Linked DNA regions of Homo sapiens. The protein of the gene in region 1 interacts with the protein of each later gene in a pairwise test. Each region holds a gene or a part of one and is shown in the gene's direction. Other genes may lie near its edges. The genes, in order: MATN2 and CACNA1A.

What was found.
Region 2: the proteins of MATN2 (region 1) and CACNA1A interact in a two-hybrid assay, tested with the Homo sapiens proteins (one study listed by BioGRID and IntAct).

What each region holds. Positions count from the first base shown.
Region 1 is NC_000008.11:97,859,805-97,875,084, forward strand, and holds the start of MATN2 (matrilin-2 isoform a precursor), read left to right. Parts: upstream 1-9,259; 5' UTR 9,260-9,483; intron 9,484-15,280.
Region 2 is NC_000019.10:13,492,370-13,507,251, reverse strand, and holds the start of CACNA1A (voltage-dependent P/Q-type calcium channel subunit alpha-1A), read left to right. Parts: upstream 1-772; 5' UTR 773-1,027; coding exon 1,028-1,320; intron 1,321-14,882.

The sequences.
Region 1 (15,280 bases):
CAGGGACGCCCCTTGCACCCAGTGTGGTGGCCTTTGTGTGATATCCATTTTATTCATTTTAACTAAAGGAATGTATTTCTTTTCTTTTCTCTTTTTTTTTTTTTTTTAATTCAGAGACAGGATCTCACTAAATTGCCCAGGCTGGTCTTGAACTCCTTGGCTCAAGTGATCCTCTGCCTCGGCCTGTTGGGATTATAGGCATGAGCCACCATACCTGGCCAAGGAATGTATTTCAAATTACTCTTTTTCTCTATTTTACTTCACAGGGTGTTCCTTGACTTGTTTTTAACTGTAGGTCTTTATTAAATTTACCTTTCCTATATTTAGTTGCCTTCAGTAAATAATAATAGCAGCTCTAAATCCCAGTCTTCTCTATCTTGACGACCTGTTGACATTTCATATTCATGGTGTCCAAAATGGAAAATTGTCCTCCCTTTTCCCCAGATCTCCTCCTGTTGATTTAATGTGTCTCCGTTGTGTTCCCGTCTTCCTGACTTAAGATCACAGGTCCTCTTCACTTCGCCCCTCTTTCTTTCCCTGTGGCTTCTACCCTTTTATGAGGTAGCATAACATTTACCATTTACTGAGCCCTTCCTGTATGCAGACATGCTTAGATATATTATTAACTCTATCCCCATTTTACAGGTGAGGAAACCGAGGGTTTCAGAGGTAATTAACTGGGCCAAAGTCACCTAGTAAGTGGCAGAGGACTTGAATGCAGATTGAATACATCAAAGTAGGTAATGCATTTCTTTGAGACATCTAGAATTTCAGAATTCTGTACATATAACTTCTTGCTTCTTAACAATCATCAATTTCTACTAATTTGAATTAATACATCCCAAGAAGGAAAGCAGGTTGTGCAAAGCTGTGTAAACTGTAAACTTGGGGTGGATCTTCAACTTGAAGTTCGTGTTAACATAAGTAAAGCTGTCAGTTTCCCATTTAATTAGACTGGAAAATGCTCTGCAAATATCAGCTTTTCATTGTTATAAAGAATGTATTCAGGCAGGAAGAGGGATCAACAGAGGTGGGCCTTTTAGAGTGGTTGTTTTTAAGGGAGCAATTTCCTTTTGAGGAATTGTCCCTGCCCCTGCCCCAGAAAGCCAGTATCGCTGTCTATTTTCACACCTATCCAATAGAGACAGAAAAGAGTAGTCAATTCCCATGGGAGTGTAAGCTTTTTTTTTTTTCCCCTGTTGAAGTTAATGCATTGTATCATCTGTGTCCCTGAGAGTTAAACTTCCTTAAACATCTTAATACAAAATCCAGGTATGAGCTGGGCATCAAGACACATTGCAAACTCATAGGTTTCAATAAAATTACATAAGTAATGGATTGCAAGAAGGAACAGAAAATAAAGCCAATAACATCCTTTTGGTCTCCATCTGAAAATGACTTCCTTCTAGAAGCCTATGGCCTACCAATCTGAGTGGCATTTTTTTTTTTTTTTTTTCTTTTTGAGATGGAGTCTCTCGCTCTGTCGCCCAGGTTGGAGTGCAGTGGCGCGATCTCAGCTCACTGCAACCTCCGCCTCCCCGGTTCAAGTGATCCTCCCACCTCAGCCTCCTGAGTAGCTGGGACCACAGGTGTGCACCACCATGCCCAGCTAATTTTTGAATTTTTAGTAGAGATGGGGTTTTGCCATGTTGGCCAGGCTGGTCTTGAACTCCTGGCCTCAAGTGATCCAACCCCCTTGGCCTCCCAAAGTGCTGGGATTACAGGCGTGAGCCGCTGCGCCTGGCCCTGGGTGGCATTCATTTTATGTTCTTCCATGGCATCCTCAGCATCCCCAATCAAGGTATATCTTCCGCTCTATGGTTACTGCTTTTCTTGTCGATAGTCCCCCAGTAGATTATAAACTCACAGAGAGTCTATGTGTTACTTATTGCTCTGTTCGTGTATGGCACATGTCTGGCAGATAGAAGGAACTCAAAACATATTTACTAGAATAAAATAAAATAAGCACATAAGGAGAATTAAAGCCAGCTGTAATCCCATCCCAGTGACTGCAACAAATTTTTAAAAGCAACTCAGTGGAGCTCAAGTTCCATAGAGACAATTCAGAAGAGCCTACTAGAAAAAAATTCCATTCCACCGGGCGTGGTGGCTCACGCCTATGATCCCAGCACTTTGGGAGGCCGAGGTGGGCAGATCATTTGAGGCCAGGAGTTCGAGACCAGCCTGGCCAACATGGCAAAACCCTGTCTCTACTAAAAATACAAAAATTAGCCAGTCGTGGTGGCACATGCTTGTGGTCCCAGCTACTTGGGTGGCTGAGGTGGGAGAATCACCTGAGCCTGAAAGGTTGACGCTGCAGTGAGTCATCATAATACCACTGCCCTCTAGCCTGGACAGCAGAGTGAGACCCTGTCTCAGAAAAAAAAAAAAAAAAAGAAAAGAAAAAAGAAAAGCAAAAAAAAAAAAAAAAGAAAAAGAAAAGAATTCATTCATTCCTATAGATGATGCAAGGAGACCGCGGGAAGGTCACTGCTCCAGCAACCCTGCCAAAGCCACAGCTGGAGTAGTGTGTACTGGGCTGGGGGGCTTTTAGGGGAGTGTCGACTTTTAGAAGAAAGTTGTAAAGGTGATAACAGCAACACAGTAATAAAAGGATTGCTTTCCGAAGAAAGATTAAAGTCCCGCTAAGATGAGAGGCTACCTAATAGTCTGCCTAAATTTGAAATCAAAAGGAAACCAGCATTCTTAGTTCTTACTATTCTTGTGATCAAGTCCCATTCACGTGAGCTTAATTCAGTAGGAATCTGAATACAAAATTAAATTGCTAGATGTGTCTCCTCTTAGGAGCTTTCTCTTTTCCCTTTCCTAGTAAATCGTTGTTAAAGCAATAAATGACCAAATCTAAGACCTTGGTGGAACCCTGAGACCTTGGATAAATGGGGGGGAATTCTCAACAGCTACTATGCAACTTAAAGATAGTGACCTGTTCACCTACTTCCTGGTCACTTCAGATTTAAATGAAATCCCTGTAAGACCATACATGATAAACCTTGTTTGTCTTTAATCCTTTATAAGAAGATCACAAAATTCCAATAGTAAAAGCAATGTAAATTCCCCTGTGGCAGGTACCATAGACTCAAGCACAGAAATTCCCACTGCAGGCAATTTCTGCAGTGGAAATGAATTTTTTTTTTCTTCAGATACTGTCTCACACTGTCACCCAGGGGAGAGTGGCACGATCACGGCTCACGGCAGCCTCAAACTCCTTGGCTCAAGTGATCCTCCCACCTCAGCCTCTCTGAGTAACTGGGATTACAGACATGCGCCACCATGCCTGGTTAATTTTTTTTTTAATGTTTTATAGAGACAGGAGTCTTGTTATACTGCCCAGGCTGGTCTCTAACTCCTGGCCTCAAGCAATCCTTCCACCTCAACCTTCCAAAGCACTGAGATTACAGGTATGAGTCACTGCACCCGGCCTTCAGACTTTGTTCTTTTTCTTTCAAGATTATTTTGGCTATTAGCATCAACCTGTCAGTTTCTGCAAAGAAGCCTCTGTGATTTCAGTAGGAATTATGTTGAATCTGTAGATCAATTTGGGGATACTGCCATTTTATTAAGTCTTCCAATCCATGAATATGGAATGTCTTTCCATTTGTTTAGATCTTCTGTAATTTCTTTCAATAATGTTTGCAGCTTTTAGAGTATAGAGTTTGCATTTCATTTGCTGAATTTCTTTTCTTTTTTTTCTTTATTTTGAGATGGAGTCTCACTCGGTCACCCAGGTTGGAGTGCAATGACACGATCTTGACTCATTGCAACCTCTGCCTTCCAGGCTCAAGTGATTCTCCTGCCTCAGCCTCCTGAGTAGCTGGGACTGCTGGCTTGTGCCGCCACGCCAGGCTAATTTTGTATTGTTAATAGAGACAGGGTTTTACCATGTTGGCCAGGCTGGTCTCGAACTCCTGACCTCAAGTGATTCACCCACCTCGGCCTCCTAAAGTACTGGGATTACAGGCGTGAGCCACCACACTCGGCCTATTTTTGTTATTCTTGAATCCCCATTTATTGAGCTCTGCCAGCGGGCTGGGGGATTTTATAGAATAGATGCACATAGACATTGCCCAAGTGTCTGGCAAACTGATTTAACACCAGGCATCCCATGCAGACATAGACTCATTAATATCCTTGAGAGAAGGTAGTTAGTTGAGTGTCACAAGGATGAGGCTATCGGCTCCTAATAGCCGACCACTTTGTGCCAATTTCTAGGTTTAGGAATGAAAGCAGCAGCAATCTGTGTTGCTGAGCGATGCTTCCATAAATAGCAGGTCCATCCTCCATTTCCAAAGTGAAACCTAGTCTGCAGGTAGACAGGCAGTGTTTCAGCCTTGTCAGTATCCAAGAAAACAAATCATATTTGTGCTCACTATTGCCTATGCATTAAGGCTCCCCACTTTATTATCTCATTCTTTACATTAATTTTTTTTTTTTTTTTTGTAGAGATGGGGTCTTGCTGTGTTGCCCAAGCCAGGCTCACACTCCTGGGCTCAAGGGATCCTCCTGTCTCAGCTTCTCAAGTAGCTGGGACTACAGCCAACTGCAACTGCCTATTATCTCTCTTTTAAAATCTGAGACGGGGTCTTGCTCTGTTGCTTAGGCTGGAGTCTGGAGTGCAGTGGTGCAATCACAGCTCATGGCAGCCTCGACCTCCCCAGCTCAAGTGATCCTCCCATCTCAGCCTCCCAAATTGCTGGGAGGCTAATTTTTAAATTTTTAAAAAATTAATCCAGCTAATTATTAAATTTTTTGCAGAGATGGGGTCTCACTGTGTTGCTCAGGCTGGTCTCAAACTCCTGCGCTCAAGTGATCCTCCTGCCTAGGTCTCCCAAAGGGCTGACATGACAGGCATGAGCCACTGTGCCAGGCCTTATCTCATCCTTGATAGGAAGCTGCATCAATCTGATTCCACAAAACTACAAGGCTCTAAAATCCTGGTTAGAGCCGGTGTAACCCAGTCCCTTCTACAGCATGGCATAGGGCAAGATCTATAAATAAGCAAAAGGCCCAGTCCCTGTCCTCAGGAGCTCATGGTCCAAGTCAAAATCACATAAAAACATTTGAGTCCCCTTTGAAATGAGTATTGTTTTCTTGAACAAATTTTCAACTTGCTGTAGTTTTTTTCCTGATCACTTTCATCCTGTCTTTCCAAGATGGGATATGTTTATTTAGAAATTACTTCACCTGGGACAGCTGCTTCTCTCTTTTGCTCAGGCCCGTAGCACTGCAGGATGGGCAAGTGTCGTGGACCTCATACTGCTAGGAGTCTCTGTAGTCACCAACAAGATCAGAAGTGGCATGATAAACAGTACAAGAAAGCCCATTTGGGCACAGCCCTGAAGGCCAACCCTTTTGGAGGTGCTTCTCATGCAAAAGGAATTGTGCTGGGAAAAGTAGGAGTTGAAGCCAAAAAGCCAAATTCTGCCATTAGGAAGTGTGTCAGGGTCCAGTGGATCAAGGATGGCAAGAAAATCACAGCCTTTGTATTCAGTGATGGTTGCTTGAACCTTATTGTGGAAAACCATAAAGCTCTGGTTGCTGGATTTGGTCAAAAAGGTCATGCTGTTGGTGATATTTCTGGAGTTCGCTTTCAGGTTGTCAAAGTAGCCTGTGTCTTTCTTTTGGCCCTATACAAAGGCAAGAAGGAAAGACCAAGATCATAAATTTTAATGGTGAAAACACTGTAGTAATAAATGTTCATATGCCAAAAAGAAAAAAAAGAAATTATGTCACCTGGGACAATGGTGCCATCAGTCAGCCTGTCCTCAAAGGAACCCTCTGGACATGGACCCAACTGTCCATGTAGATGGGGTATCCCAAAGGGAGCTCTGCCCTGCCTACAGGGTTCCCCTCCCTGGGCTGGAGTCCAAGCTCATCCACTACCTTGGAACATTCCCTTAACCCTGCATCTCCAGCTCCAACAAATGGGCAGCTGGCCGGATATGAAGATGTTTCCTCTCCTGGCCTTCTACTTGAGGGAGACAGGGAGGAGCTCTAATAGTTTACATAGGACTCAAACACTGTCTGTCACCTAGGGAAACAGTGCACGTGAGATGACATTGCAATTTTACATGTCTCCTCATGCATTCAGTAGAGCTTTATTTTAGGTTTATAGGTCCGTGAGGCAACCTGTTTCTTCTTCAGTTTCCTTATACTGTACTCTGGTCCCCTTTGGATTTGACAGTCTCATTTCAATCTGCCCTCTAGGCCAGATAGCTAGGTCTCAAGTAAGAAGGATTCTAATGCAAAACAAAAAGTTCTAATGTTTACAAGGAGCAAAGGGATGCTTATGTTTAAAGTCTATATTCGAGGCTGTTCACGAGTGTGAGGCCTGGGTCAAATGACTCTCCTGACCCAAATCCTTACTCCACAATAGACTACGTGGAGATCGAGAACTGAGAGTTGATCCCAAGTATAGCTACTCAGGTTGTGATTAGTTTAAACAGATACCAATTCCAGTTAACTTGTGAGCTCTTAGGAGTTCTCAGATAATACATACCTCATTTTTGTCTGCTTACATGAGTGCCCACATAAGAACTGAAAATCTGTTTTTTTTCTTTCTGGGACAGAGTCTCACTCTGTCACCCAGTCTGGAGTGCAGTGGTGCAACCTCGGCTCATTGCGACTTCTGCCTCCCATGTTTAAGTGATTCTCCAGCCTCAGGCTCCCGAGTAGCTGAGATTACAGGCGTATGCCACTACACCCAGATAATTTTTGTATTATTATTATTATTATTATTCTTAATTTTTATTTTTTGAGATGGACTCTAGTTTTGTTGCCCAGGCTGGAGTGCAGTGGCACAATCTCAGCTCACTGCAACCTCCGCCTCCCAGGTTCAAGCGATTCTCCTGAGTTGCTGGGATTATAGCCTCCTGAGTAGCTGGGATTATAGGCGCCCACTACCACACCCGGCTACCTTTTGTATTTTTAGTAGAGACGGGGTTTCACCATGTTGACCAGGCTGGTCTAGAACTCCTGACCTCAAGTGATCAGTTCGCCTCAGCCTCCCAAAGTGCTGGGATTACAGGTGTGAGCCATCGCCCAGTCCCAGAACTAAAAATCTTAAACCCACACTTCTGAATAAGGTTCTCTGTACATCTAGCACATGGCAGGACCTCTAGCAGAAAAGGCAATTTTGGCCTTTTCCTAATCTATAGTCTTAATTATCAACTTGCAATTCATCCTGAAGGTAACCCAGAAATCATTTCATTGTTTGTTCTGCCTTTATATTTCAGGACATTGAACTTGCTTTTCCTTCATTTTTTTCTGGCAGACCTGAAGATCATCCCACAAGGTAGAACAACTCATTTAACCTATTTGACTTGGCCCCAAGTGTAATTTGTACATAGATTAACTATTCTGAAGAATTCCAATAGAACTCCCTGGGGGGAAAACACCCATTTTAATTGGCATACACCAGAGTCACTGGAATCAGTTACTAAATTACAATTTCCTTACAATTTGGAAGGGTTTGGGGATTGTTATTGTTTTCCTGGTAAATTACTGGATCACACTGGTGTCTTGGAATAAGTCAACACATTTTAAATTTAAGTTTCCATAAACTGTAGCTCAACTTCCCAAGTTCCTAGGGGATTTTCACTGGCCCAGACTCAGGAAGAATTTTCTTCTATGGGATCCAAGACTTCAGAGACCAAACATTTCCTGAAGACTTTCCTCTGCTTTCTGACCTCCACCTACCTCCTCCCAAAGACATAACAAAAAAACTATTTGTGATCAGTGCAGGCAGCCAAGAGTGCCCAGTGGGCCTAAGGTACTGGGTAAAGGAACAGGAATCCACAATTCTTTCTTGGTATTAAGGTATCATTGACTTGCCTGATGGCTCGAGTATGTTAACCCCTTGCTTCATGGCTGGAATTTTAATTACCCCTCCTGGAGCTTTTCTGAAGAATTGATTTTGGCGTTTATTCATATTTCAGAAATCAACTCTATCATCAAATAGGAATGATGGTTAATTACAAAACAAAGTCCGCCCAAAGCACCAAATTATCAGACTGTGGCACATCCAGAGGTTTTGAAACTAGTTAGTGCTGCTGCCTCTGCTGGTAGCTTGTTAAAACCTGAACTGGGGCCGGGCGCAGTGGCTCACGCCTGTAATCCCAGCACTTTGGGAGGCCGAGGCGGGCGGATCACGAGGTCAGGAGATCGACACCATCCTGGCTAACACGGTGAAACCCCGTCTCTACTGAAAATACAAAAAAAATTAGCCGGCCGTGGTGGCGGGAGCCTGTAGTCCCAGCTACTCTGAGGCAGGAGAATGGCGTGAATCCGGGAGGCAGAGCTTGCAGTAAGCCAAGATTGCGCCACTGCACTCCAGCCTGGGCGACTCCGTCTCAAAAAACAAACAAACAAACAAAAACACAAAACCTGAACTGGGTGCGTTGGCTAGTGGTTTGGGAACAGAATTTTGGAGCTTTATAGGAGATGTCCTGGTCTGTTATACATCCACTCACCCCAGCCTCCAGGAACTGGGGAGCTGGTAGAGGGGGGTGCCGGCCACTTTGACTGTCGCTGGCCAATCCTGTCTTCTGCATCCCTCCAAGGCTCCATGGGGACATCCAAGGTGAGGTTCCTCCATTCTGCAAAGTTGCAAATGTCTCTGCTCATAATTTCAAAAGTCTTGTCTGAACTAGACTTTCCCTGCTCCCTCGGGGTAGGAATTTTGTCTCCTCTCCATCCTGGCATCTTTACCTCCTCCCCATCCCGGGGCCTGGTCCCCAGCCAGTGGACGCTCTGTTAATATGAACTGGCACTGGTGGGGTGCTCTGGGCACTGGCAAGACAGCTCTTGGCGCTTGTCATCAATTAGCCCAATTCTCACCACTTTTTTCTCCATCCCCGCGTCAGTGGGTGCGTCCCGCAGGTCATGACCCCAAGTTCTAGATGTAAGATTCCTGCCATGTCTCCTTTCCCCCAGAAGACCCCTCCCCGCACTCCCAACCCGACAGGCCCCTAAAGCTGCCTGTGTTCCGTGCCTGCGGCTCCGGACCCCTGGAGTCTGATGCCCGCCTGGGCTCAGGCACGGACGGAGTGGAGCCAGGTGGCAGCAGGCAGGGCGCGCCGCCAGAGTGCCCAGCTCCCGGGGCTGCCCACAGGGTGGGGCCGCCCTCGCCGCCGCTCCCTCTCCGCGCCTTCCCCATCCCCAAAGAGGACACCCCTCCTTCCGCCCGGCCCGCTCCCCACCCCCGCCGCGGCACCGCCTCCCCAGCCGCCCGCCCTTGCCCAGCGCCTCCCAGGCAGCCAGCGAGCGAAGGGAGCGCTCTGGGATGGGACTTGGAGCAAGCGGCGGCGGCGGAGACAGAGGCAGAGGCAGAAGCTGGGGCTCCGTCCTCGCCTCCCACGAGCGATCCCCGAGGAGAGCCGCGGCCCTCGGCGAGGCGAAGAGGCCGACGAGGAAGACCCGGGTGGCTGCGCCCCTGCCTCGCTTCCCAGGCGCCGGCGGCTGCAGGTGAGCGCGGCGCGCTTTCCCCCGGCTCTGCGCGGCCGGGCGGCCTCGAAGTGCAGGCGGACCGACCCACCGACAGAATACCGAGCCTGGGCTGCCCGACGCGCAGGCGCCCTCCCCAGGCCCGCACTGCAGCCCCCAGCGCCCCGGGGCCCCGGCGCCTTCGACCCCTCCGAGGACAGGGGGAGAGGGAGGGCGGCGCTGCCCGACCCCTCGGCCGGGAGAGCTGGGCGCGCTCCCTGCGCAGGACAAGCCGCGCTGCAGCCGCCCCGGAGTGCCCCGTGGGGGCGCTGTGGCACGCAGCGGGGACGCCCAGACCCCGGCCACCGCGACCCAGGGAAAGGGAGACCTGTTGAGCGGGTATGCAGGGTGATTCCTATTCCACGGACAGCCGATGGCTCCCCCTTCCCTCTTCGGAACCTGGTATTTTCATGCCCGTGTCATCTGGATTTTGTTCTTGGGTCTCTATGGCAGCTAAACCTCCAGCTTCCCTATATTGTGGAAGAGGGAGAGAAAGGGGAAGGCATTTTGTGGTAGTTGCTAGAAACCCCAGAACAATTTGGAGCCGTTTGGGGAGAGGACAGAGAAATGGGGACTGTCCCTGGTAGGGTCTCCAGGACTGGGGGCACAGGAAAGTGCTCTCCTCAGGGACACTCGCGCCCACCCTGAACAAACCCAATTGACCAAGTTTCAATTTGTCATAAATCAGGAAGCCACAATGCATCTGCACCAAGCACACTTAAAATCGGCCTTTAAGGAATGGGGCAGTCAAGAGACTTCAGGGACCCGTGGTCGAGAGCAGAGACTGGGGTCAGCCTGCTTGGGTTTCAACCCCAGCTGTGAAGTTTACAGGGTTGATAACTTGAAGGTACCCAAGTATGCCTCAGTTTCCTCATCTGTCTAATGAGGATGGTAATACCCACAGAACTGTGAGGATTAAATGAGATATGGCGGCCGGGCACGGTGGCTCAGGGCTGTCATCCCAGCACTTTGGGAAGCCGGGGCGGGCGGATCACCTGAGGTCGGGAGTTCGAGACCAGCCTGACCAACATGGAGAAACCCCGTCTCTACTAAAAATACAAAATTAGCCGGACTTGGTGGCGCATGCCTGTAATCCCAGCTACTCGGGAGGTTGAGGCAGGAGAATCGGTTGAACCCAGGAGGCAGAGATTGCAGTGAGCGGAGATGGTGCCATTGCACTCCAGCCTGGGCAACAAGAGCTAAACTCCGTCTCAAAAGAAAAAAAAAAAGATATGGCAAGTAAAGTCCTTAGAACATTTCCAGGAGCATTCTAAGATTAGGTGAGTTCCATGGCTTGTCTTTGCAGAAATAGCAAGGAGCTGCTATGAGCAGTGAATGTACCTCTTCCCCAGTTCAGAAAGAGAGGCTCTCCATGGGTACGTGAGGGTGGCAGATAAGCCACGTGTATGCAACTGGTAGTTCCATGCAGGAGTCCACACGGGCGCAGTTCTCCCTGCTTGCTCCCAAAGGGCCAACCTCATAAAACCATGTCAAAATACCAACATGGGTTTATGACCTGGAATGTTTCCTCTCAGTCCCTGAAACTTGGCACTTAGAATCCTCTGTGGAGAATGAGATACTTATGGCTCTTCACCTTGCATTTTCCTATCTGTCCACACTTTTTACTTTTATTTCTGCCAATAGAATTCAATCTCAGGCCCCCGAGTTACCAGGACACTGTCTTCTATAAATCGGGGCTCTGGGGTTTCTTGTTCCCAGGCAACCCAGGGCCACCAAGGCCTAAGCTTGCTTGTTGGAGGTGTCAGAGCAGAGTCCAAATCTGAAACACCCTCGAGCAGCTGTCATGCCCTAAGCTCTTATCAGCGAGTGCCATATGTCCTTGTTTAGCAAAAGGTAGTTAAAAGTGTGGCCTGAGATTTAAAGAAAAGGAGAGATGTTTGCTCTTTGAAATAAGAGAGCCATTGGAGGTTCTGGAAAAATAATTCTACAGTTTATTTAGAAACAGTTCTGACTGGCACCTAAGAGAGGGCAAGGAGTGAGGTGGGGAGACTAAAAGGGGGAGAGACCGGCTTAGGCCTCAGGAAAAGCAGGCCGAAGAGGGTGTGACAGGTCTAACGCTGGCCTGAGCAAGGTGTTGGGTATGAGGCTGGGCAAGCAGTAGGAGAGGTGAGTGGTTTAAGACCAGTCAAGTTGGCAGAGAGCCTCTAGTGCTGCCCCTGGCACTCACTGCCCTCTGATCTGTAGCACCTGCAGGAGCGTCCCTTCCAGGGATTCCCCGTCTTCTAGGGAAGCTATGGAGGACTCCCCTGTTTAAAGCATATGGCAAGATAACTCAGGAGGGCCAGGGAAAGAGGGAGGCTGAGCATATGCCAAGGGGAGAATGGGGAATGTCATTGCTGTTGCTAGTGAATGGTGCCAGGGAGGTCCTTCCAAGGGGCCACTTGCCACTTGGAGCTTCAGCCCATGAGGCCATCCTTGAACCCTGCCATGTGGCTCGGCAGACAGCCAATACTGCCTGAAGGGGGCTCAGATGGAATGGCAGGGCTGGGCTGTTGCCAGTAATTGGTGTTAATGACTATGACAGTGGCTTTGACATGGATGAGATGGAGTTGGGGTACAACCCAAAGCACACTGCTCTTGGCACCCGAAAGACCTGGGTTGCAGTTCTAGCCCCTCATACCTGCAAAGATTTTGGAAAGTTACTTAGACTCTCTGTGCCTGACATCTGTTTCTTCATCTGTAAATGAAGACTGGATTTTTTGGGAGAATTAAATTAGTTAACAGGTGTTCAGTGCCTAGCTCAGAATAAATGCTCAATATTTGTTAGCTATACTTACTATTATTGTCTGAGCCTTGGTTTATATCATCTGTCAAATGGGCGTGATACTATGTCATAGGGTTGTTGTAAGGGTTAAATGAAATAATTAATGTGAATTTATCCAACAGTGTGTGAAGGGTGTAAAGTACTCAAAGTGAGTCAATTGAAATGGAAAATTTCACAAAATACCTGCATGTAAAAATCAGCGGCTGAGCAGGTGGATCAGCTAACATTTTTGGAAAGTTATTCTAAAAGTACTGTCAGAGGAACCTTTATCTACTTATGGAAAGTGGGGCTCACTGCCCATGGGGATACCCTGTAGTTATTTTATGTTGTTGTATTAGTTGCCTATTGCTGCTATAACAAATTTCACAAACATAGTGGCTTAAAACAACCCTAAGATGTTATCTTGCAGTTCTGAAGTTCAGAACTCTTAAATGGGTTTTGTAGAGCTAAAATCAAGGTGTCAGCAGGGCTCTGTGGTTCCTTTTGTAGGCTCTTGGGAAAATGTCTTTCATTTTCTGACTTCTAAAACCTGACTGCATTTCTTGGCTCTTGGTTCCTTCTTCCATCCTCAAAGCCAGTAACAGCATCTTCCAACCCTTCTCCCCATCCTGACTCTCGTGTCTCCCTCTTACAAAACCATACCTAGAAAATCTGGGCTAATCACTGCATCTCATAATTCCTAAGTTAATCACATCTCCAAAGTCCCCCCGTTTTTTTTTTTCAAGACAGAGTCTCGTTCTATCGCCCACGCTAGAGTGCAGTGGCGTGATCTTGGCTCACTGCAGCCTCCGCCTCCCAGGTTCAAGTGTTCTCCTGCTTCAGCCTCCCAAATAGATGGGATTACAGCCATGAGCTACCACACCTGGCTAATTTTTTATATTTTTAGTAGAGATGGGGTTTCACCGTGTTGGCCACGCTGGTTTCGAACTCCTAACCTTAGGTGATCTGCCCACTTTGTCCTCCCAAAGTCCTGGGATCACATGCGTGAGCCAACCGCACCCGGCCCAAAGTCCCTTTTGCCATGTAAGGCAACACAGTCTGGGGATTAGGCCATAGACATCTTTGACATATTATTCTATCTGCCAGAAATATTAGAGTATTAGATTGGGCATGATGGTAAGAAAAACTATTTAGAAAAAAGAAAGAAATATTAGAGTATTAGAGAAAATGATCTAAATCAAAGAGTTTTAGCTCACTTCTGTTTAGGGCTTCTCCCTGTACCCTCCCAGTTAGGTGAGTTTGTTTTCACATCTCTTTTTTTCTTTTTTTTTTTTTTCCCAGACAGTTTCTCTGTGTTGCCCAGGCTAGAGTGCAGTGGCACAATCTCTGCTCACTGCAACCTCTGCCTCCCAGGTTCAGGTGATCCTCCTACCTCAGCCTCCCAAGTTGCAACACCATGCCCTGCTAATTTTTGTATGTTTAGTAGAGACAGGGTTTCACCATGTTGGCCAGGCTGGTCTCAAACTCTTGACCTCATGATCCACCTGACTCAGCCTCCCAAAGTGCTGAGTTTACAGGTGTGAGCCACCATGCTTGGCTGTTTTCACATGTCTTAAAGACCAAAAGCTCAAGACCAGAGGGGTCAAGGCTATGGATCAAATGCTTCTTGAAACTCAGTTCAGAAATGGCTCCTTCCTGTCCTTTTTGGGCTTTCTCCCTCCCCTTGAGTAACCCTCAAATTTGTTTCTTTTTTAGATTTTTGTAAAAACTTTTTTTTTACAGAGACAGGGTCTCGCCATGTTGTCCAGGCTGGTCTCGAACTCCTGAGTTCAAGTGATCCTCTTGCCTCAGCCTCTCAAAGTACTGAGATTATAGGCGTGAGGCACCACGCCTGGCCAGTAACCCTCAACTTTGGCCCTTAGAACAGTCACTGTTGCCCCATCAACAGCATTTGTTGACTTTTCTAGCTGCTTCTCCTCTTCCATTTCTAGTGAAATAGAAAAAATGCCCTCATGTCCAGAGCAAGATCTCTGTGAAGCAAATCACTCTAGTGACGTTTGACCTCCCTGAGATTCCCAGACGGTGTCTGTACTAGTTTCCTATTGCTGCTGTAACAAGTTAGCACAAACTTAGTGACTTAAAACACAGATTTATTATCTTACAGTTCTGGAGGCCACAATTCTGAAATGGTTCTCATGGGGCTAAAAATCCAGGTGTCAGCAGGGAGAATTTGTTCCCCTGCCTTTTCCAACTTCCAGAGGCTGCACGCATTGCTCGGTTTGCTTCCATCTTCAAAGCCAGCAATGTCAGGCTGCATCCTTCTCTCACTGCCACACCTCAGATCTCTCTTCTGCCTTCCTCTTCTTCTTCTTCTTCTTTTTTTTTTTTTGTTTGAGACAAGGTTTTGCTCTGTCGCCCGGGCTATCATGCAGTGGTGCGATCACGGCTCACTGAAACCTCAGTCTCCCGGGTTTAAGTGACCCTCTTATTTAGGCTCCCAAGTAGCTGGGACTACAAGGATTGTGCCACCATGTCTGGCTAAATTTTTTTTTAATTTTAATTTTTTGTAGAGACAGGGTCTCTCTATCTTGCCCGGCTGATCTTCGACTCCTGGGCTCAAGCAATCCTCCTGCCTTGGTTTCCCAAAGTGCTGGGATTACAGGCATGAGCCACCATGCCCTGACCTCTTCTACTTTTTTTTTTTTGAGACAGAGTCTTGCTCTGTTGCCCAGGCTGGAGTGCAGTGGTGTGATCTCAGCTTACTGCAACCTCTGGCTCCTGGGTTCAAGCGATTCTCCTGCCTCAGCCTCCTGAGCAGCTGGGATTACAGGCGCGAGCCACCATGCCTGGCTAATTTTTCTATTTTTAGTAGAGATGGGGTTTCACCATGTTAGTCAGGCTGGTCTCGAACTTTTGACCTTGTGATCTGTCCGCCTCGACCTCCCAAAATGCTGGGATTACAGGCACAAGCCACCGCCCCTGGCCCCTCTTCTACTTTTGAGGACGCTCGTGATTACATTGGCCCACCTAGATAATCCAGGATCATCTCCCCTT
Region 2 (14,882 bases), on another chromosome or scaffold:
CATACCTCTCTCTCTCTCTCTTTTCCCCCTGTTGGGAATTTTCAGGATTTCACTGCTGCAATTTAACCCCAAGATGAGGCACCATTGAGCGAAACGCTGTGCGCACATACACACTCACACTTCCTCCGGGAGCAGAAGAGGCAGCCGTTGGTGATTCAGGAAGAAAAAAAATTTTTTTTTTTTTTTTTAAACCTGGACCCTGCGGTGTGAAGACTCCTTAGGAACCCTCTGGAGCGTCTTACTCCCCTTCCCTCCTCTTTCCCTTCCCTTTCATCTTCTTTGTTTTTATTTTATTTTATTTTTGGAGCTACAGATCTTTCAGCATTTTTAAGGTCTAGGAACTCCAGCAAAACAGAAGGGCACTTAATTTTTTTTTTTTTTTTTTTTGCCCTCCCCACCCAGACCTGGGTTTCGTCTTTCTTTATTTTTAAATATATATATATTTTTTTATTTTTTATTTTTTATTTTTTTTTAATGGGCCGAGCGCACTCCTTTTGCAAGATGCCAGCCTGACCCGGACCTCGGAGGAATTTGAAGCTTCCACTGCGTCCCGGGGGGGGCGTCCTTTGCAAACCGTTCGCGTCTTAAAGGGGGTGTGCGTTGGGTGGATTTTTTTTTTTTAACTGTCTCTTTTTTTTTTTTTCCGGAGTGGGTGGACTGGGGATTGCCTGGATTCCTTCCTCGGTTATTTTTTGCCTCGCTTCTCTCTCCCCTCCCCCCTCCTCCCCGGGCCCCCGCGCCCCGCCCCCGCACCCTCCTCCCGCCCCTCCTTCTCCGGGGTCAGCCAGGAAGATGTCCCGAGCTGCTATCCCCGGCTCGGCCCGGGCAGCCGCCTTCTGAGCCCCCGACCCGAGGCGCCGAGCCGCCGCCGCCCGATGGGCTGGGCCGTGGAGCGTCTCCGCAGTCGTAGCTCCAGCCGCCGCGCTCCCAGCCCCGGCAGCCTCAGCATCAGCGGCGGCGGCGGCGGCGGCGGCGTCTTCCGCATCGTTCGCCGCAGCGTAACCCGGAGCCCTTTGCTCTTTGCAGAATGGCCCGCTTCGGAGACGAGATGCCGGCCCGCTACGGGGGAGGAGGCTCCGGGGCAGCCGCCGGGGTGGTCGTGGGCAGCGGAGGCGGGCGAGGAGCCGGGGGCAGCCGGCAGGGCGGGCAGCCCGGGGCGCAAAGGATGTACAAGCAGTCAATGGCGCAGAGAGCGCGGACCATGGCACTCTACAACCCCATCCCCGTCCGACAGAACTGCCTCACGGTTAACCGGTCTCTCTTCCTCTTCAGCGAAGACAACGTGGTGAGAAAATACGCCAAAAAGATCACCGAATGGCCATATCCTTTTGCCCGAACCCCAGCAGCAGCTGCGCCTCCCCCTCCTCCCTCCGCCTCCCCTCTTCCAGGCTGGGAGAGAGACCCGGGGGTTGATGGGAGGTGGGGAGGAGGGGGGTCTTCCAGGGGCTGGGAGAGGGGGCACCGGGAGGAGTGTGAAAGAATCTCTCCACCCCGAGCTGGGTTGAGCTACCCTGGAGGCTTGGGAATGGGTTTGTGGGGGGCTGGGGGGTGGGCAGCGGAGAGTGGATCCTTCCCAAGGACCGACTCTAGAATGAGATCTGGGGCCTGGGGTCGTGCAGGAGCCTTGGTGGGGGCTTTCGAGCCAAGTCCGGAGGGTTTGGAGTTCTACGGAGTGAGCTTGGAGCGGGCTCGGGCCTGGGCGCTTCTGGCCAGGGCAGGGGAACTATGGGGGCCTTGGTTGGGTTTTCTTGGCCGTCGCTCACTGGAGTCCACGCAGGGGAAGCTGGACAGCCTCTCCACTACTGCTTTCCCCAAGGTGGGGGGCCGCCGCACTTTTAGGGCAGGGCGCTTGGGGGCTCCCAGGGCTAAGAGCAAGAGGGAGTCCATGTGGCCTTCACACTGAGAAGCCAGCACTGGCCGAAGTGAGTACCCCAGGGTGGGCCGCTGTTCCTATCTGGAGAGGATAGTGATGGGCTGGGGGGCGCTTATGTTTCCCTCATGTGTGCAGGTCCCATTGCCTTTAACCGCTGATTGGGGAACCTCATCATCTTTGGGGGTGTCGAGAAAGAGATCCCACTTGCTTTATCTGGGCCCCTGGCCTGGGAAGACCTGATCTGGACACTTTCAGTAAGAAAGACAGGGCAACAGCAAATGAGGTGGTGGGTCCATTTTAGAGCACCATGTCCAGCTTTTCCTACCCCGAGTAGCCGAGAGGGAACACCAGGAGAATCAGCACCCATGTGGACATCTTAGGTAGGTAAATGCCTTTTAAATTTTTTTTTTTTTAATCAAAGATCCAGAGGAAAAAGGTGAAGCCCACATTTTCTTCTGTGGAGATGCTATCAAAATGCAGATCTTCTGTGTTTCTTTAAATCCCTGCCTGCTTGAAATAAACCTTGAGGAGGGCTTAACATCTATCGAGATGTAGGCAGGCAAGGGTGGGTAATTAGTCGGGCTTTCTAGCAGTTATCTAAGCATGACCCAGATTCCAGGAGGGGGGACACACCCTGCTGCCCAGGCTGGCTGGCCACTGTGCCATGCCCAGATGTGCCGCTTCTCCGCACAGTTCCAACCAGCTGCCCTCTGTGTAAAAATGAACGGGCTGGATGGGTCCCTGGGGCTCAGCGATGAGTCCCCTATCCCTTTTGTATGTGGTTTTGCAGTTATAGACTAAACGGGGCTGGGCCCTGTGTGGTCTCCGGGGGTTGCTGTTTGAGGAGCATGGCGGGTGGTAGAGGGACTCACTTCAGGGGGGTTCAAAATCGAGCCTGGCGCTTGGATCCTGGGTGCTGGGATTGCAACAGAGGGCACTGAGGTTTTGGAGTGTGTGAGTGGTCTACTTTGAGGGTGGGGAAAATTAAGAAGTTCAGCAGAGGTGCTTTTGAGGGGAGCATACCTCTAACTACGATGCCATCTCCGTTGGTGCCCAAAGCAGGTGCCAGGTCTTTGCTTCCTAAGTTTCAGACTCTTAAAGAGGCTGGTTCTTAAGGTTAGCAATTCCTCACCATCCCAGGCCCATTGAAGTGCTCAGGGGTGGCTTGATTACTCTGCCTATCAACAGAGTGAGGAGTGGGAGTGCCTTGCAGGAGGACAGGGTATTCATGGGTGCACACCCAGTTAGCTCCAGGAGTGAGAGGGCTTTGCTCGGCTGACAGGTTTCCTCATTGAAAATGGCTTTAGATCGCCTTCTGGAGCCTGGATTTGGAGACTTCTAAGAGGAAAGGAAGGAGGTGGGGAGCCCTTCTGCTGTGTCCTTAGCTTACCTCTGTCCAGCCTGAATCCTGCAGATTGGAGGGCTGTTGGGGGAGAGGGGGATTGCAGTGGCCCCTCGGAAGGGGGAATCGTGGGAGAGGGAGGCAGGTGAATTGCGAGTGTTGCTTGCCACTTCATCTATTCTCTGGCCAGCTCGCCCGGGGCTTTCTTGCTCTTATGATGAGTTTGTGCATTATGCTCTCTGCAGACTGTTTTTGTTCTCTTTGACCCGAGGTAACAAACACATTATACAGCCCTACTCTGGAAGGGAAAACTCCCCACCTCACAATCTGTCATCGAGCTGGGTCATCCAGGACTGAGCTTTCTCTGTCCTGGATGGAGCGGAGGGCGGTGGCGGGGTGGGTGGGAGGGTTGGAGATGAGAGGGGATGGACAGAGACCTGGGGAGGGAGGTAGTGAATAAAAGAATTCAGGCCAGTGTAAAGAGAAAGACACGTGGAATGTCAGAGTCACGATACCAGGGCAGAACATTCTACTTTTTAATCTAAATATTTCTGCCATTAAAAAAAAATGTTTCAGCATATCCTGAGAGTGAAAAAAAAAGTGTGTAGGTACTTAAATAAAGTCTAATATATGTACAGGCAAGTACATATATTCAGATGCATAGATTTTTACAAAATGAACACACCCACGTATCCAGCACCCAGGTCCCGATCAGTGCCCTGGAAGTCCCCCTCCCCATACCGCCTCCTAGTTGCTCCCCCAACAAGGGTACCGCTCACCTGACTTCTAAGGTTCATTTTGCCTCTTTTAAACATGTAAATGGAGTCACACAGTACGTTCTTTTGCCACTGGCTTCTTTTGCTCACATCTGTGTATGTGACTCTACTACAATCTATCCATTCTACTGTTGATGGGCATTTGTGTCATTTCTGTTTGTGCCACTGGGAACATTCTTGTGTCTTCTATTATTTTTTTCCCACAGTTCTCTTAGATAGGAGTGGAATCGCCCCTGCTACTTTTTGATGCATGTGTTGTGGGATGTGTATTTGGAAATGGTGTTGACTAAGGGTTGCAGGTCGATATGGAAAGCAGGTTCCTCCCTGTCTTGTTTAAGAGAAGTGAGTGAATGATCCATGAACTTGTCGGTATGCTCACAGGGCCTAAGAGTGCTACTTCCAAATGTAAATTCTGGCATGGTACACTGGTGAAGGATGCAGTCTTGCTTTCTCCACACTCGGGGCAATTTGTCACTATGATTTCTTCCTCTTTCATCCCTCAGTGGGTCAAACTTGAAGCCATCAATGACAATTAAGAATCCTCATTTATTTCATTTTTTCCCCTCTTCCTAAGTGAGGAAACCCAAATGGAAGTCTTTGATGTTCAAATTTACATTGCCGTGTTTTTCTCATGCCAGGCAGCAAGCCGTCTTGACCACACACCTTGGTTTCATGTTTTCATTGACTGGAATTGTGATTCAAATAGGGCCATGAGGGTCTCTGATGATTGCCGAAGAGCTCAGATCTGTCAGCTCAAAAAGGAGCATCTGTCAGCCTTCCTAGAGTTCCCTCCCCACTTAATGCCACTCACTCCTTCTACCAAGTGCCAAGGTGAATGTCATCTTTCCAGCCCTCCCTGTGCCACCAGGTCTCCCACTGAACATGATGTAGAAACTCAGGCCATCGGAGGAACACTGGAAGCAGGTCAGTGTATTATCACGCACAGTTGCCTGAATTACACGTAGAATTCCAGCTTTTCATCCGGTTTGCAGAAATCTTAACAAGACACCTAAAGTCACATTGACATCAGGTGACATCACTTTGACATCTGTGGACATTGGCTGATTGGCACTCCTCTCATTTTTTTTTTTTTTTTTTTTTTTAAGAAAAGCTCTCTAAAGAGAAACTTTCTGCATGAGAAGCGCTGGGAGACATGGGAGCAGGTTATCAGACTCTTGGCCTGTCCTGAGAGATAGAATGTTCTAGAAGGTACTGCCGTAGAGGGCAGGATGGTGTCACTTACGTGATCCTTGTACTAGACCGGCTTGGCTGGTATTTCCAGAGGAGCAAAATTCTGCGAAGTAAAATTTAGCACGGCTTTTCCAATGGGAGTATTTTCAAAAAGGGTGCAATTTCTTATCCACAATTCCCCAATCCAAAAAGCTCCAAAAACCAAAAGACGAGCTCATATAGAGGTAAAACCTAACCTGAACTGACTTCAGTTTGAAGTCTTAATTTACAGTTTTCATTCATTCTACTTGGTGTGCATTTGAGTATGTTTTGCAGCAGAAATGTTAGATGTGCTTGATGATGAGGTGCTGCTTCAGCTCCTGACTGTTAGGTCTGCATTGTAGTCCTGTCAAACTTTCAGGTGTATGGAAGTTGTCTTGTTAACAGGATGGTTCTGGTCCAGCAGGATTTGGGTGGGGTCTGGGATTCTGCTTTTCTAGCTAGCTTCTAGGGATTCCCCATGTGGTAAGTTCATGGGCTAGGGTTGGAGTATCCAGGTTAGATCATAGAGACATCTTGTTATCATTTTTCTTTTCCTTAAAAATCAGGTTTATAGGGGCCGGGTCTGGTGGTTCACGCCTATAATCCCAGCACTTTGGGAGGCTGAGGCCGGTGGATCATGAGGTCAGGAGTTCGAGACCAGCCTGGCCAACATGGTGAAACCCCGTCTCTACTAAAAATACAAAAATTAGCCAGGCGTGGTATTGTGCGTCTATAATCCCAGCTACTCGGGAGGCTGGCAGGAGAATCATTTGAACCTGGGAGGCAGAGGTTGCAGTGAGCCGAGATTGCACCACTGTACTTTTTTTTGAGACTCTGTCTCAAAAAAAAAATAGATTTATTGATGTATAATTTATTTGTAGCAAAATTCACCCTTTTGACATACTGGTCTGCAAGCTTTGACAAATGGATGTAGTTGTGGCCACCACCCAAATCAAGATATGGGACAGTTTCATCAACCCTAAAATACCCCCACAGTGCCCCTCTTGAGTCAGCACCCCACTTCTCCAGCCCCTTCAACCACTGATCTGTTCTCCATCCCTACAGCTTTGCCTTTTGCCGAAGGTCATATAAATGTAATTTCACAGTATATAGCCTTTTGAATGTGGATTCTTTTACTCAGACTTTGAGATTCATTCATGCTGTTGCCTGTGACAGTAGCGCCTTCCTTTTTGGTGTTGAGCAGGATTCCATGATATGGATGGACCAGAGTTTGCTTCCCAGCCGAAGGACATTGGGATGCTTCCAGTTTCAATGATTATGAATAGAGCTGCTATAAACATTGGCTTATGGGTTTTAGTGGGAACATTTCATTTCATACATTTCATTTCTCTTGGGTAAATTAACCCAGGAGTGAGATTGCTGAGTTGTGTGGTAGGTGTATGTTTAATTTTATAAGAGGCTCTCAAACTGTTTTCCTAAGTGGTTGTACCATTTTACATTCCCATCTTTGCAATGCGTCTAAAAGCCCTGAGTTCTGAATTCCAAAGCACGTCTGGCCTCGATGGCTTAGGATTAAGGATGTGGATCTATGGAAAGGAGTGGAAGTAATAGTGTTAAATCCCGGTCAGAGAAATAAGAAAGATTAAGGATGTCATTCAAAGCTATGTGCCTGCACTAGAGAGAGAGAAAGAAGGGGTTCTCTTGGGTGGGGTTCCACCCCTCCCTGGTAGTTCTACCATTCCCCAGGAAAAAGTCAAGCTCTGAGGCTGTGAGACCCATGATCTTTACCCTGTTCTTCACCACTGCAACCCCAGTGTGTGGGACAAAGCAGGCGTCCTATAAACGTTTGCTGAGCAAATGAGAAAAGGTACCTGTCTTCACCCATTAACTAAATTGTATAACATCTATCTGATCTACCCTTGTGCCAACGTTTTAGGATTTTGATGGGTTTTAGTTGCAGGGGGTTGAGAGACTGTCCATGAGATTATCAGACCAATGAAAGTTTCTGAAATGTTAGTGCTTGAGTAGATTGGATGCAGCGGCCCCTTGAGAATGAAGTCTTTCTTCAGGGACTTGGAGTGGGAGGCATCTGTTGGGTGCGTAGGGCTTATGCTTCCCCCTCCCTGTTTCCCCCCCAGTAGCAAGCACACATATACACTTTCTCAGCAATAAAAAGCACCGCCGGGAAGGTGGACTCCATCCAGAAATGATCAGAGCCTAAGAGCCGTGCAGTAACGCATTTCCGAGAATGCCAGCTCAGCTCCTGAGAAAAGGGCCGGATGGGATGGTGCCTGCTCTGAAAGAGGGCAGAGAGGAGAGGGAAAACACTCCGGACTCTGGGTCAGACTGGCCCAGGTTCACATTATTCACCAGCCATGTTATCTTGGGCACCAGAGCCTATTTCTTGACATGCATGATGAGGATATTCCTTCTAGTAGCATCTCCCTTGGAGGGCTCTCAGGAGATTAAATGGGGTCGTGCGTGAAAAATGGCCAGCACAGTCTCCAGCACAGAGAAAAACCCCAAAACGCCAGAGCCGTAATACTATGGAGTCATTTAGGTTCCAGTGTTCTTTTTTTGGAAACCGGCCAGAAAAGAGGCTTTCTGGGTGGGAATGGGAGCGAAGTGCCCCCCCCCACCACCCCCTGCGACTGGTCAGTGTGGATTGATTAACCTGATCGTGGCGCTCTTTAAAGCCACCTTTGGACATTTTGCATTCTCCGTTCTCTCTGGAAGCTTTCAGGGGAAAAAAAATTCGTGGCCACTTGACCCATTTTTCTATTCCCTTGAGTCTAAGGTAAAAATTAATTCTCTTTCCTCCTTTGGTCCCTCCCTCTCTCTGTGGGTGACAAGGTGAGGGAGTTTTAAAGTATATAATTAGCTTCCCTCTTCCCCTTTTGCACTCCCTGTCTCTTCCTTTGGGGCCGGTCGAGAGTGCAGCCCAGGATGGCCACCCCAGGTGTCCACTGCAAACTCCACAGAAAAACTTTGCTCAACTTTTGGTTTAGAATTTAGGTACCCCCCTCCCCTTCCAAACTTTGGTCTTCTTTCTCCTCACTCCCTAAAAAAATAGGAAAAACAAGGAACATTCCTGGCGAGGGAACCATGAGTGGGCACAGCAACTTAGGTTTCAAAAACCACTGGGCCTCAGTTCTTATCTGAGTAGGGTGACCCTTCAGCCAGGGTTGCCTGGGACTATCCTGGGTTTAGCATCTCTGGAAACTCACAGTCCTGGGCAAACTGGGACGCTGGTCACCCTAATGGTGAGTTCTTAACACCTGAGAGAGAAGAATGGTGCAAGAGATGGTGCCGTTGACCAAGAAAGGGGGAGAGTCAGTTACTTATTCCCTCTGAAAAGCCAAGACTTTTTATTGGAATGAATGCAGCTTTTAGAAGCCGTCTTTAAGGCAGCTAATACAAGAGAGATTCCAGCTATGAAGGGAAATGCCTGAGTTAAGTCCGGATCAAGTTTTGACATCTCGCTTCGGTCAGACACGGCTTTATCTGCCGTTCAGACTGGGAGCAGCCGTGAGTCTTCCTTAAAGGTGCCTGTTGCTCAGGCGGCACCTGCAGTTAGAAATTAGCAGCCTCCCACCCCCAGCCCCCAAATAACAGGATTCAAGAGTCCCCTCTCTGAAGCCATGAGGGAAACCCAACTTAGTCACCCACTTGCCAGTAAATAATATTCATGCTGTTAAGTTCTGTTCTCATTTTAGGCCTATGTGTAAAAAATATATGTAATTTTAAACTGATTTTTAAAGTATTTTCATACGAACAGCATTTGCAGGAGGGCGAAGTCTGGATGTTACCTTTTTGTAAAAGTGGATGGATTTGTCTTCAATGAGACTCTGGGGCAGACTTAAAACTTGGCCCGCAGTGGTGTTACATGGATTCTGATCTTCCAGAGTCTGTCACGTTCTTTTATCTCCATGATCTTTATTATCTTCTTTATTGAGAATGATGGGCATGGTGTGTGTGGGTGGGAGGGCTATGCTGACCATCACTGCAGTGAAATGTGTTCGTGGCATGTTGTGGCGTCTGCATAGGAATGTGTCTGTTTGATTAACAGCACAAGCAGTGGAGGCTGTAAGGAGGAAAAGAGGAGGGAAGGTGATATTGGATGGAGGGGAGACATATAGAGCTTGGGAACAGTCCACCCTGGCTGCAAATCTCAGCTCCAGCTCACAGTTGTGGAGCCTCAGTCTTCTCCTCTGTAAAACGGGGACAGTAGTCCTATGTCCGAGGAATTGTAAGAAGGTTAAAAGATACTGTACCCAGAAAGCACATGGCATATATAATCATCCTGTGAAGTAGCCAACTCAATGAATTTTATTTTATTTATTTTGAGTCAGAGTCTCACTCTGTCACCCAGGCTGGAGTGCAGTGGCATGATCATGGCTCACTATAGCCTCGACCTCCTAGGCTCAAGCGATCCTCCTGCCTTAGCCTCCCGAGAAGCTGGGACTATAGGCATGCACCACCGTACCCAGCTTTAACAACATAAATTTATATATATATATATATATATATATATATATATATATATATATATATATATATATATATTTTTTTTTTTTTTTTTTTTTTTTTTTTTTTTTTGAGATGGAGTTTCATTCTTGTTGCCCAGGCTGGAGTGCAATGGCGCGATCTCGGCTCACTGCAACCTCCGCCTCCCGGGTTCAAGCAGGACGATGGGCATTTGGGATGTTTCTAGTTTGGGGTGGGGGATTGTTTGTTTGTTTGCTGTTATGAACAATGCTGCTGTAAGGAATCAATAATTTTGAATGAATGAATTCGAGGTGTTAATTTTAGTCTGTGTACTTGGAAATCTAGCTTCACCTAGAATCAGCTGAGATTCATCAGCATTTATGGCAGGAGCTAAGACATTTCACAGCTTACTCATCATTTTCTCTAAGAGGCTGGGTCAACCGGTTAGCTCTTGGTCCTGCTTGTATTCTGAGAGTCAGAACCTGTGGTTTAGACACTGGCAATTGATATGGTTGTAGAGAAGCAGCATGGTTGAGTTGAGAGCATGGATTCTGGAGCTAGGTGGCTGGGGTTCAAATCCCAGCTCTACTAGTCACTGGCTGCGTGATCTTGGGCAAGTCACTTAAGTGTTCTGTGCTTCAGTTTCCCAGTCTGTCCCAGTGGTGATTCTAATAGCTCCATGGGGATCCTAATAGCTCCTATCTGGGAGGATTAAATGAGTTAATACATCTGATGTTTAGAGTGGTGCCTGACACTTAGGAAGCACTATATGTGTTTATACATGGAAGAGTGGATAGATGGATGGACTTATGTGGGTGGCCATATTTGGGCTTCTCTGATCCACTGCTGAGAATAGTGTGTGGCACACAGTAGGTGCTGCATAAGTGTTAATATTCTGCTCTTTCTTGCCAAGTCTCTCAACTCCCTTGATCTCTGTTATTTTTGGCGTCTGTGTTGTTAACCCATTCTTCTGAATGATCAGCTGAATCACTGTTGCTCCAATATATAAGCCAAGGAGAACACAATCACAAGGTCTCATTGATTGTCCATACTAGAATTCCATGATTCCTAGGCCCAAGTAGGATTTTCCCCACGTCTCAGCAATCCTTCTTCCATGTTTCTAATCTTTTTCTCTCATTTGTTATGCCCCATTGCCAGACTCTCCAATCTCCCCACAGCTTCCCCTTCCTCTAACTATACTGTCTCTAGTCTTACCTTCTCCCTAAGGGCACCGTCTTTGAAGACATCAAATACTTCAGAGCACCAAATATAGGTTAGCTTCTCTGAGGGCCTTACAAGGACATGGAGTGTTTGGGTCTTACACAAATTGGAATGGTCAGAAATGTTTAGAGACTTGAGTTGTCTTTGAAAGAGTTGTCAGAATGCAAATTTTTGACTTGTGGCCTGTTTCTGATCACAACGCAGTCTTTTAAGTTATGGATCATAGCTGGATGTTTGTGGTTTAGAGGGGATGGAGGCATCCTCTGCAGTTAGTGTTGGATGTCTGGGTGGATGGATGGATGGATGGATGGATGGATGGATGGATGGATGGATGGTTGAACAGATGCATGGATGAGTGGATGGATGGATGGATGGGATGAAGGAAGGAAGGAAGGATGGGTGATTGGAGGGTAGGTGGGTGGATAAGTAGATTGGTAGATGACTCGATGGGTGGGTGGACAAATGGATGGGTGAATGGATGACTGGATGGATGACTGGATGGATTGGTGTATGAGTGAATATATGGCTGGATGAATAAATAGGCAGATGACTAGACTGGATTGAGGGGTAAAAATATGGATGACTGGATGGGTGGATGAGTGGATGATAGATGGTTGAATGGGTGGGTGGATGGGTGGATGTTGGATATAAGGGTGTATGGTAGGGTAGCTGTCTATGTGTGGGTCTCCCTGATATTTGGTGTTCTGTTTGACTTGGGAATGACCAAGTCTCTCCGCTTACCACCTTATTTGTACCTTTTCCAGTATCAAGTGAATTTTGCACACTTTTGTAAAAATCAATAAGATTGTATGTTTAGGACTTTGGGAGGCCGAGGCAGGCAGATCACAAGGTCAGGAGATAGAGACCATCCTGGCTAACAGGGTGAAGCCCCATCTCTACTAAAAATACAAAAAATTAGCCAGGCGTGGTGGCGGGCACCTGTAGTCCCAGCTACCTGGGAGGCTGAGGCAGGAGAATGGCATGAACCCGGGAGGTGGAGCTTGCAGTGAGCCAAGATCATGCCACTGCACTCCAGCTTGGGCGACAGAACGAGACTCCATCTCAAAATAAATAAATAAATAAATATTATATGCTTAGGTTTTACCTATGTAATTAGAAAGCTCCTTGAGGGTAGGGGACAGTGATTTGCCTTCCTCACATCCCCCCAAAGTTCCTGCACTATATCATGCATAAGTATTTAATTGAGTAATGGTGAGGAAAGTAAACAGTGTTATTGAACAAAGATTATTAAAATTCTGGAAACACCTGGTTTTGTTTCAGCACTGGGACTGAAAGTGGAATTCCTTGGATTTTGCTCCATTGGTGGATAGGATAGCATGTGGTGGTGGACTGGTAGACTCTTTCTCTTCCAAGCAGATTGGGTAAATGCCCCAGATTCTTACCCACTAGTCAGAGATTACAGATTACTGATTGATATGGTTTTTCTCTGTGTCCCCACCCAAATCTCATCTCAAATTGTAATACCCACATGTCATGGGAGGGACCTGGTGAAGGTGACTGGATCATGGGGGTGATTTCCCCCATGCTGTTCTTGTGATAGTGAGTTCTCATGAGATCTGATGGTTTTAAACTTGTGTGGGCCTCTTTCCTCTCTCTCCTCTCCTGCTGCCATGTAAGACGTGCCTTGCTTTCCCTTTGCCTTCTGCCATGATTTGTAAGTTTCCTGAGGCGTCCCCAGCCATGCAGAACTGTGAGTCAATTGAACCTCTTTTCTTTATAAATTACTTTTATAGCAGTGTGAAAACGGACTAACACACTGATGTAGCAAGGTCCTTTAAGGCCCCATGTGATCTGGTCCCTGTTTTGTCTTTGATCTCATCTCTTTCATTGTCTACCTTCCTTTCATTGTCTATTCTGTCTCAGCCCTGCTGACCATTTTACTCACACCCATGTCATTTGCATTACATGACATTCCTTCTGTTCAGCATAAGCTATTTCCTCTGCCTGCATCACTGTTTCTCCAGGTCTCCCCATGGCTAACTCCTTCTCTTCATTTAGGTCTCAGCCCAAAAGTTACCTCCTCCAAGAGGCCTATCCTTTTCATTTACTGAACATCTCATGTACAAAAAAGAATATAAAATATATGTATACTCTCTCATCCACAAAAAAATCTCTGAAGACATTTTAATGTATTTCATCCCATACCTTTTTATGCATGTAAACTTTTAGGAACACATTTCCATGCCACTAGGTATCCTTGAAAAAATAAGGGCCACCATGTATAGTTGCACAGGTTGTGCACTGCACAAAGATAGCATGTCACATATCTTAAGTATCATGGAGCTTGTATGTCTACTATTTCAGTACCCCAGCTGATAAAAGCTTAAGTATCTTGTTCTAGCAAGATGAAGCTATTATGACAATTTTTGACAGAGAAAGGGGTGTTTTGTTTAAGTTCACAATCAGAGAAATGGGTGTCTTGTTTAATTTCACAACCAGAGAAAGGGGTGTCTTGTTTAAATTCATACAGTGGTGCTGTATGGGTTGGTGGCAACCCCAGAAAAGACTGTTGTTAATATCTGATAATGTTCCACTTTATACGTGTATTATATTCATGTAACAATCTCTGGCTGTTTGTTTTGCCATTATAAATAACAGTGCAGTAAACATCTTTGTGTGTGAATCTCTGTCCAAGGTTCTGATAGTTTTCTGAATGAAATTCCTGTCTATATATGGCACTCCAAGCCCATAATTGAAACTCTGCTGTTACCACTTTCTTTGAATCTGTAGAAGGAATTTTGAGAACAGGTGACTGGTATATTCAGGATGTTGATGACAAGGAACAGAGAAAGAACAGTTAAATGGTTTGGAATTTTTCCTGGGCTGCATGTAAAGCAGTGCTTTTGAACTGGGAGCAATTTTTCCCCCAAGGGGACTTTTGGCAATGTCTGGAGACGTTTTTGGTTGTCACGAATGTAGGGGGAGGGGGCAAGATGCTACTGGCATCTGGCTGGTAGAAACCAGGGATGCAGTTCAGCATCTTAAAATGCACAGGACAGCCTTTCTCAGTAAAGAATTATCCAGCTCCAAATGTCAGTAATACCAAGGTTGAGAAATCTTGATGTAATCGATGTCATGGGTTTCTTCAAGAGGAGTGGGTGGATTTAGGGTTTTTGGGTGACTTAAATTTAATTTACAGTTTGTCTTCCTAGCTGGGTGTCTAAGCCAGCTTTCTGTGAACTTTAGATCCCACACAAGAAGCAACAGGCTTGCTACCGACAGATTCGTTGATGTAAATATAGATGAGTGTATAGAAGGAAATCTCACCCAGAGCTGGAAAATGTTGGAATGAAAACTGCGGCGGCCTCCCCTTCTCTCTCCTTCCCCTTCTGTTGCCCTGTTTGAAAATCGTGCCTTACTTTCTTTGGTCTCCTGGCATGGTGAATGCTGCTGGTATGGACTGTGTTTCTATATCCCCTTGATCCCCACACCCTTAGGAACGTACAGGAGAGAGACCCTGGAGCATATCAGCTTAGAGATGGAGGGGAATGGGAAGGAGTGCGTTCATTCATTCATAAATGTTGACTGAGCACCTACTGTATGCTAGGTGAATGGGAGGACGTGAGGGCAGGGAGGTGACAAGGTTGGCTTATTCTGGGCTTTGTGAACTATGGTGAGGATTTTGTTTTTTTCCAAAGGAAATGGAATAACCACTCCTTTTTTCCCCCCGATATACCTAAACTTTTTGATTTTCATAACAAAAATGGGCTTCCTTTTGTATATTTGTTTTGAGACCAGCCGTTTTTCCACCAACACTGATCACACTGCAGTGAGCATCCTGGTAGAGAAGTCTTTGCACACTTCTGTCACTGTTTCCCTAGGACAGATTCCTGGAAATGGTATGGCAAGGTTGTATGTCAGGCTTTTGGGCCAGGTTGCAAGAAACAGGAAGTCTGTGCCCTTTCAAATTCCAAGGTCCCCTTTCCCTGACGACGTGGCCCAATCAGGCTTGCCCTCCCTTGATTTTACATCTTCACCAATCAGATAA